2 linked regions of the Homo sapiens genome follow. The gene in region 1 interacts genetically with each later gene. Each region holds a gene or a part of one and is shown on either strand. Other genes may lie near its edges.

What was found. Genes that interact genetically often act in the same process or in processes that back each other up.
Region 2: changes in MCM3 (region 1) and ATR are lethal when combined (synthetic lethality), as found in Homo sapiens cells (one large-scale study listed by BioGRID).

The regions. Positions count from the first base shown.
Region 1 is NC_000006.12:52,267,743-52,271,242, forward strand, and holds part of MCM3 (DNA replication licensing factor MCM3), read right to left. Parts: intron 1,485-3,500; coding exon 1,344-1,484; intron 265-1,343; exon of another isoform or gene 227-264; coding exon 123-226; intron 1-122. UniProt on the Homo sapiens protein: Acts as a component of the MCM2-7 complex (MCM complex) which is the replicative helicase essential for 'once per cell cycle' DNA replication initiation and elongation in eukaryotic cells.
Region 2 is NC_000003.12:142,453,234-142,456,733, forward strand, and holds part of ATR (serine/threonine-protein kinase ATR), read right to left. Parts: intron 1-3,500. UniProt on the Homo sapiens protein: Serine/threonine protein kinase which activates checkpoint signaling upon genotoxic stresses such as ionizing radiation (IR), ultraviolet light (UV), or DNA replication stalling, thereby acting as a DNA damage sensor.

The DNA of each region.
Region 1 (3,500 bases):
CTCAAACTCCTGGACTCAAGTGACCCACCCGCCTCGGCCTCCCAAATTGCTAAGATTACAGGCGTGCACCCCCAACTTCTTGGCCACTAACTTTTTAATCTCATTTGCTTGCCCCACCTTACCTCTTCCTCTTCTGCTCCTGGTCCTCTTGGCTTTTCTCCTCTTCATCTTCTGTCTCTGATTCATCCTCACTTCGCTTCTTACGTTTCTTCTCCTTCTCCAGAACCTAAGACCAAGGCAAGTGTGGCTGGGCTAGAGGGGTCACTGATGCAGGGGAACTGCATCAAGAACTCCCAGTCCCTTCTGCATCATAAGCAGGAAAGACTTCCATGTTTCCAATGGTTTACCTAGCTCCTCTTGTCCCTAAGTCCCAGGACCAGGGGCAGAAGTAGAGACTGCTACCCATCTTTTCAAAATGCTGGGAAGTATGTTAAATGCTGTTTATATAGTAGGTACTCAATAAATGTTTACTGAATAAAGAAACAAATGTCTAGCCCATAATGGTTAAGTGAAAACAATCCATTTCCTTATAAATCAGGTGTCTAATTGAAATCCAAGACAACCCTTAACCTAGCAAAAAGCGAGGAAGAGTTTATCAGACTCACAACTCAACCCTTAACCTAGCAAAAAGCGAGGAAGAGTTTATCAGACTTACAACTCAACCCTTAACCTAGCAAAAAGTGAGGACGAGTTTATCAGACTCACAACTCAACCCTTAACCTAGCAAAAAGCAAGGAAGAGTTTATTAGACTCACAACTCAACCCCAAAAGGCTAACATTCACCAGACTGGGGTGGGAGTGGGCAACTAGGAAAAGGGAGTCTAGGCTTTGAGGCTTGATATCTAAAATGACAGAGGTGCAATGTCACAAACAGAAATAGGGAAACAGGATGAGTGGCAAGTTTGAGAGTTCAACTTTAAACATGAGCTTCTGAGGTGCCAATGGGACATTTGAAGAGACTACCAAGAGGAAAGGTAGAGTGGGACAAGGAAGATTACCAAGGTAGCTCTTTTGAAAACACCTACTTTTTTTTTTAAGATGCAAAGGAAGTAGGGGTAGACAGAGAAGCAGCTAACTGAAAGTACAGCACATCAACTAAACCAGAATCTCTAGGAGCCCTGGAATCAGCATTTTAAAGCTTTCCATCTGATTCTCTGGTGCAGTCAGGGTTGAGAATCACTGAGTGTTTCAGAGGAAAGAGTGAGGCAGACTGATGACTGGAAGACAAATACTGCTTTCTGTTGACAATCCAAATGTAGCCGTCAGCCACGGAAGGCTGGGAAGCCCATGCATCTGTAATATATCCAGGAGATCCTCTCATGCCCAGGCATCTGAATCCTCACCTTCTTAAAGTAAGCATACTGGACCAACTCCACAGCTTCCTCTGCATCCTGCAGGTCCACAGTCTTGCTCATGCGGGCCTTCGCATGGGCTGTGGCCAGTCGAATCAGAGTTTCCAGTGTTCGGGCTGTAACTGGAGATGTCTAGGGAAGAAAAGGGAGGATTGCTTATCCCAAGTCTTTTAGGCATGCCCATCAATCCTACTGCACAGAAAGGGAAATGACACTACCAGAAAAGCCCCAGGAGGCCCAAGCAAAGAATTCAGAGTTCTGTGTTCTCTACAGATACCATATAAAAATGAGAAAGATGATAGCAATGATCAAGGAAATATACACAAGAGTGTTGCAGGAAGGAGGAGCAAGTGAACAGGGAAGATTAGGCATCTAACAACTGGAAAGATAAAAAGCTACAGCGTAGAAAAGAGAAGGGAGAAAAATCATCAGTGATTGCAGGCCTGCAATGCAGCAGGAAGTTTGCCTTTATATACATTCTGTCATTTCACCCTCTTAATAACTTGGAGAAGTTTTATACATGAAGGAAATGGGACTCAAAGACCTTCAAGGAGATTTTCCAAAGTCACACTAAAGGAGGGATAGGAAAGAAGTAATCTGAGGACAAAAACGTAACTTCAGTAAACTCAGTCCGGAGAAGGAGAACTCTGACACATTCCTAACAAATGTTTCTCACAGGGGCCGATGAATACCAAACTGGGATGCCTTTATCTTTTAAAATGCTATTGTCTGAATGGCCTTTCTTGACCTAATCAATCAGAATGAATTGGAAATGAATGAATCAGAAATCTCAGTGTTTAGGACTAGATATGTGTACAAGTTTCAGGTGATTCTGATGTATCCAATCCTCTCATTTTATGGATAAGAAAGCTGACCTGACAGGTGAAAGGATTTGTCCACAGTCCAAAAGCTAGCTGCAGAGCTGGGATCAGACATGAAACTACTTCCAGCCCGGACGTGGTGGCTCACATCTGTAATCCTAGCACTTTGGGAGGCCAAGGCAGGCGGATCACAAGGTCAGGAGCTTGAGACCACCCTGACCAACATGGTGAAACCCCATCTCTATTAAAAATACAAAAGAAAAATTAGCCCGGTGTGGTGGCGCATGCCTGTAATCCCAGCTACTCAGGAGGCTGAGGCAGGAGAATAGCTTGAACCCGGGAGGCAGAGGTTGCAGTGAGCCAAGATCATGCCACTGCACTCCAGCCTGGGCAACAGAGCGAGATTCCATCTCAAAAAAAAAAAAAAAAAGAAAAAAAAAGAAACTACTTCCTTCTGTCACACCTCCCGGGTCTCCCATTATATGACCCCATCACTGACGTATCCTGGTCACTTCTTGTTTCAAGTTTCCTAAATTACCATGTATATCCACAATGACATTCAAAAATAAATACATTCACATTTAAATTCATTCATCAAATCTTGTAATAATTTAGAAAGCTACCGGAGTTTGGAAGTCATACACTCCATGACAAGTTCTAATTCTTAAACCACCTAAAAAGCTGGTGAAATCCTGGCCTGCACTAGCAGACCTAGAGAATCCAAATTCTCTTGGAATTCACTTACAGACCCCACACTAAGACAATTAAAATAGTGTATGACGCTCAGTTCTAGGTTCAATGAGAGGGCCTGGGACACACCAGAAGTTCGCATGTGGAAAGGAACAGTTAAAAAGAAAGTAAGCTGTTTAATGAGGAAGACAGGCGATACACAACCTCCAGAAAACAAGACTAACACCCACAGGTAAAAGTTGTGGGAAAATAGGTTTAAGCTTAATAAATATTCTAAAATTTCAAAACAGTGATGCTCTGCGCATGCTGTCACTGGGGGTATTAAGAAGTCCCGGCCGGGCTCATGCCTATAATCCCAGCACTTTGGAAGGCCGAGATGGGCGGATCACGAGGTCAGGAGATTGAGACCAGCCTGGTCAACACAGTGAAACCCCGTCTCTACTAAAAATACAAAATTAGCCGGGCATGGTGGCACGCACCTGTAGTCCCACCTACCCGGGAGGCGGAGGTTGCAGTGAGCCCAGACCATGCCACTGCACTCCAGCCTGGGTAACACAGCAAGACCGCATCTCAAAAAAAAAGTCCCAGCAGGGATTTGAAAAGACAGAGTGGGTGAGGCTTGAGTAGATGATCTGGG
Region 2 (3,500 bases), on another chromosome or scaffold:
CTAAAATTGAAACAAATATTATGGTATGATGTTATCTTTGCAAGAAGAAATCTTGCTGACATCAATATTTAAGTGAAGGATGAGAAGCTAATGGTAATACTCTTATAATACACATTACTACGTCTTCATTAAGTTATGTGAAATTTCTGTTTTGGTGTGAGGGGAGGGTAAGAGAAGGGAAGGCAGGAAAAAAGGCAAGATAGAGGGGAGTCAGAGGTGTTTTGGAGAATAGAGTAAGATGGGTTCTATGTGCCATCTCTAAGTGTATACTGTGAACTGGTAAATGACTATATTTTGAATGAAGGAATTTTATCCCTTACCATGTCTTCAATAACGATATAACATCTATAGCTACCATATAGACCTAGCCCAGACCTTTTTTCTGCACCCTAAACATCAAATCCAATTACCTATGGGAAATACCCAGTTGGATATGTTCCAAACACCTCAAACTCAGTATCTCCAAAATAAAATTAATTACCTTTTCCCAACTATTTCTCCTGTATTCCCCAAATCATCATCCACCCATTTGCCCTAGACAAAAATCTAGGAATCATCCTCACCCCGTCTTCCTCTAACATGCAATTACAACTCCTAAATCTCTTTGGAATCTCTTCAGTTATCTCCGTCTCTACGGCCGTGACACTATCCAGTACACCATCATCCTTTCCTGGGTTACTGCAATAAACCTCTAACTAGTTTTCTGGCTGTTGGCCCAAACTAGGACCCTATTTTTTCTACAGTACAAATCAGATTATCTCTTTCCACCCCTTGCCCCCTTTTTATTCCTTCTTAAAATCCTCAATGACTTCTGGTTGCTCTGCAGGCAAAGTTATAATGTAGTAACAGGCCCCATGTGAGACCTTCATAATCTAGCCCCTGCTTACCTGTCCTGCGTCATCTCTTAGCACCACCTCCTGGAAGTATACCCTCTGGAATACATACTGTATTTCTCAGGCAGGCCATGACTTCACTTGCCTTGATATTTTTATCACTCAGAACACTCTCTTCTCCCTTGCATGGTCAACTTTATTAACTTTTAAGGTCTCAACTACTTCCTCCAGAAATTATTTCTTGACTGACCCAGACTAACACAGGGGCTCTTGGTAACTGTTCCACATGATGATATACTTCCTATTTCAGAGAATTTGCTTTTGCATATGTCCAACTAACCAGTATTCTACCATAATGTCTGATAGACAGCTTTTTTTTTTTTTTTTTTTTTTTGAGACGGAGTCTCGCTGTCGCCCAGGCTGGAGTGCAGTGGCGCAATCTCGGCTCACTGCAGGCTCCGCCCCCTGGGGTTCACGCCATTCTCCTGCCTCAGCCTCCCGAGTAGCTGGGACTACAGGCGCCCGCCACCTCGCCCGGCTAATTTTTTGTATTTTTAGTAGAGACAGGGTTTCACCGTGTTAGCCAGGATGGTCTTGATCTCCTGACCTCGTGATCCGCCCGCCTCGGCCTCCCAAAGTGCTGGGATTACAGGCGTGAGCCACCGCGCCCGGCCCGATAGACAGCTTTTAAATAATGAAGGTGAATAAATAAGCTTTAAAAGTCCTTTCAAACAATCTGTTTCCCACAGCTAACATCATACTTAAAAGTCAAAGACTGACTGCTCTACCCCTAAGATCAGGAACAAGACAAGGATGTCCACTTTTAGCATGTCTATTCGACACTGATTTAGTTAGGGCAAGTAGGCAAGAAAAAGAAATAAAAGGCATTGATATTAAAAAGGAAGAAGAAAAACTGTATCTGCAGGTGACATGTTATTGTGGAGAGAAAATCTTAAGGAAGGCACAAAAATAATTATTAGAACTAATACATGAATTCAGCAGATTGTAAGATACAATATCAATATATAAATATCAATTATATATCTATGCACTAGCAATGAACAATCCAAAAATGAAATTAAGAAAAATTCCATTTAGAATAAAATCAAAAGGAATAAAATACTTAGGAATACAATTTTTAAAAGTTAAATATAAAACTTGACCCTAAAAACCACAAAACATTGATGAAAAAAATAAAATTCAAATAAATGGAAAAACATTCTATGTTCATCGATCAGAAGACTTAACATGGTTAAGACAGCAATACTCCCAAATTGTTAAGACAGCAATACTCCCTAATTGATTTACAAATTCAATGTCCTTCCTATCAAAATCCAAGCTGATTTTAAAATTAATATGGAAATACAAGGGACCCATAATAGCTAAATGATCTTGGGGGAAAAAAAGCAAAGTTGGAACACTCACACTTTATGATTTCAAAATTTACTACAAAGGTACAACAATCAAAACACTGTGTTGTTAGCATAAGGTTAGGCATATAGATCAACAGAATATTGCTGAAAATCAATTGACCATTTCAACAAAAAAGCCAAGATAATTAAACGAGGGGCAAAATATTCTTTTCAAAAAATGGTGCTGTGACTAATGGATATGCACATGCAAAAAAATGAATATGGACCCCTACCTTACACCATATCTACAAAATAACTGAAGACAGATAAAAGATTTAAATAGCAGAGCTAAAAGTCAAAAATGCTTAGAAGAACACATAGGTGTAAATCTTCATGACTTTGGATTAGGGAATAGTTTCTTAGATATGACAACAGAAACACCAAAAATAACCAGAAGAAAAAAACAAATTAGACTGCATCAAAATTTAAAACTTTTATGTTTCAAAGGCCATCATCAAAGAAAGTGAAGAGACAACCCACAGATGGAAGAAAATATTTGAAAATCATATCTTAAAAGGTCTTGTATCCAAAATGTGTAAAGAACTCTTGCAACTTGGCTGGGCGGGGTGGCTCATGCCTGTAATCCCAGCACTTTGGGAGGCTGAGGAAGGTGGATGGCTTGAGCTTACGAGTTCAAGACCAGTCTGGGCAACATGGCAAAACCCCTTCTCTGCTGGGGAGGCTGAGGCAGGGAAATCACTTGAACCCACGAAGCGGAGGTTGCAGTGAGTGGAGATCACGTTACTGCACTCCAGCCTGGGCGACTCTGTCTCAAACAAAGAAACAAACTCTTGCAACTCAAGAATAGGCCAGGCATGGTGGCTCATGCCTATAATCCCAGCACTTTGGGAGGCCAAGGTGGGAGGATCACTTGAGGTCAGGAGTTCAAGACCAGCCTGGCCAACGTGGTAAAACCCAATCTCTACTAAAAATGCAAGAATCAGCCAGACATAGTGGCTCATGCACACATGCTGTCCCAGCTACTTAGGAAGCTGAGGCACGAGAATCGTTTGAACCCAGGAGGCAGATGTTGCAGTGAGCCAAGATCACGCCACTGCACTCCAGACTGGGTGACAGAGCGAAACCCTGTCTCAAAGGAAAAAAAAAAAGAATAAAAAAACCCAATTTAAAAGTGGGCAAAGGATTTCAATAGACATTTGTCCAAAGATGATCTACAAATGGCCAACAAAGACATGAAAAGATGCTCACCATCACTGGTCATTAGGGAAGTGCAAATTAAAACCACAATGAGATA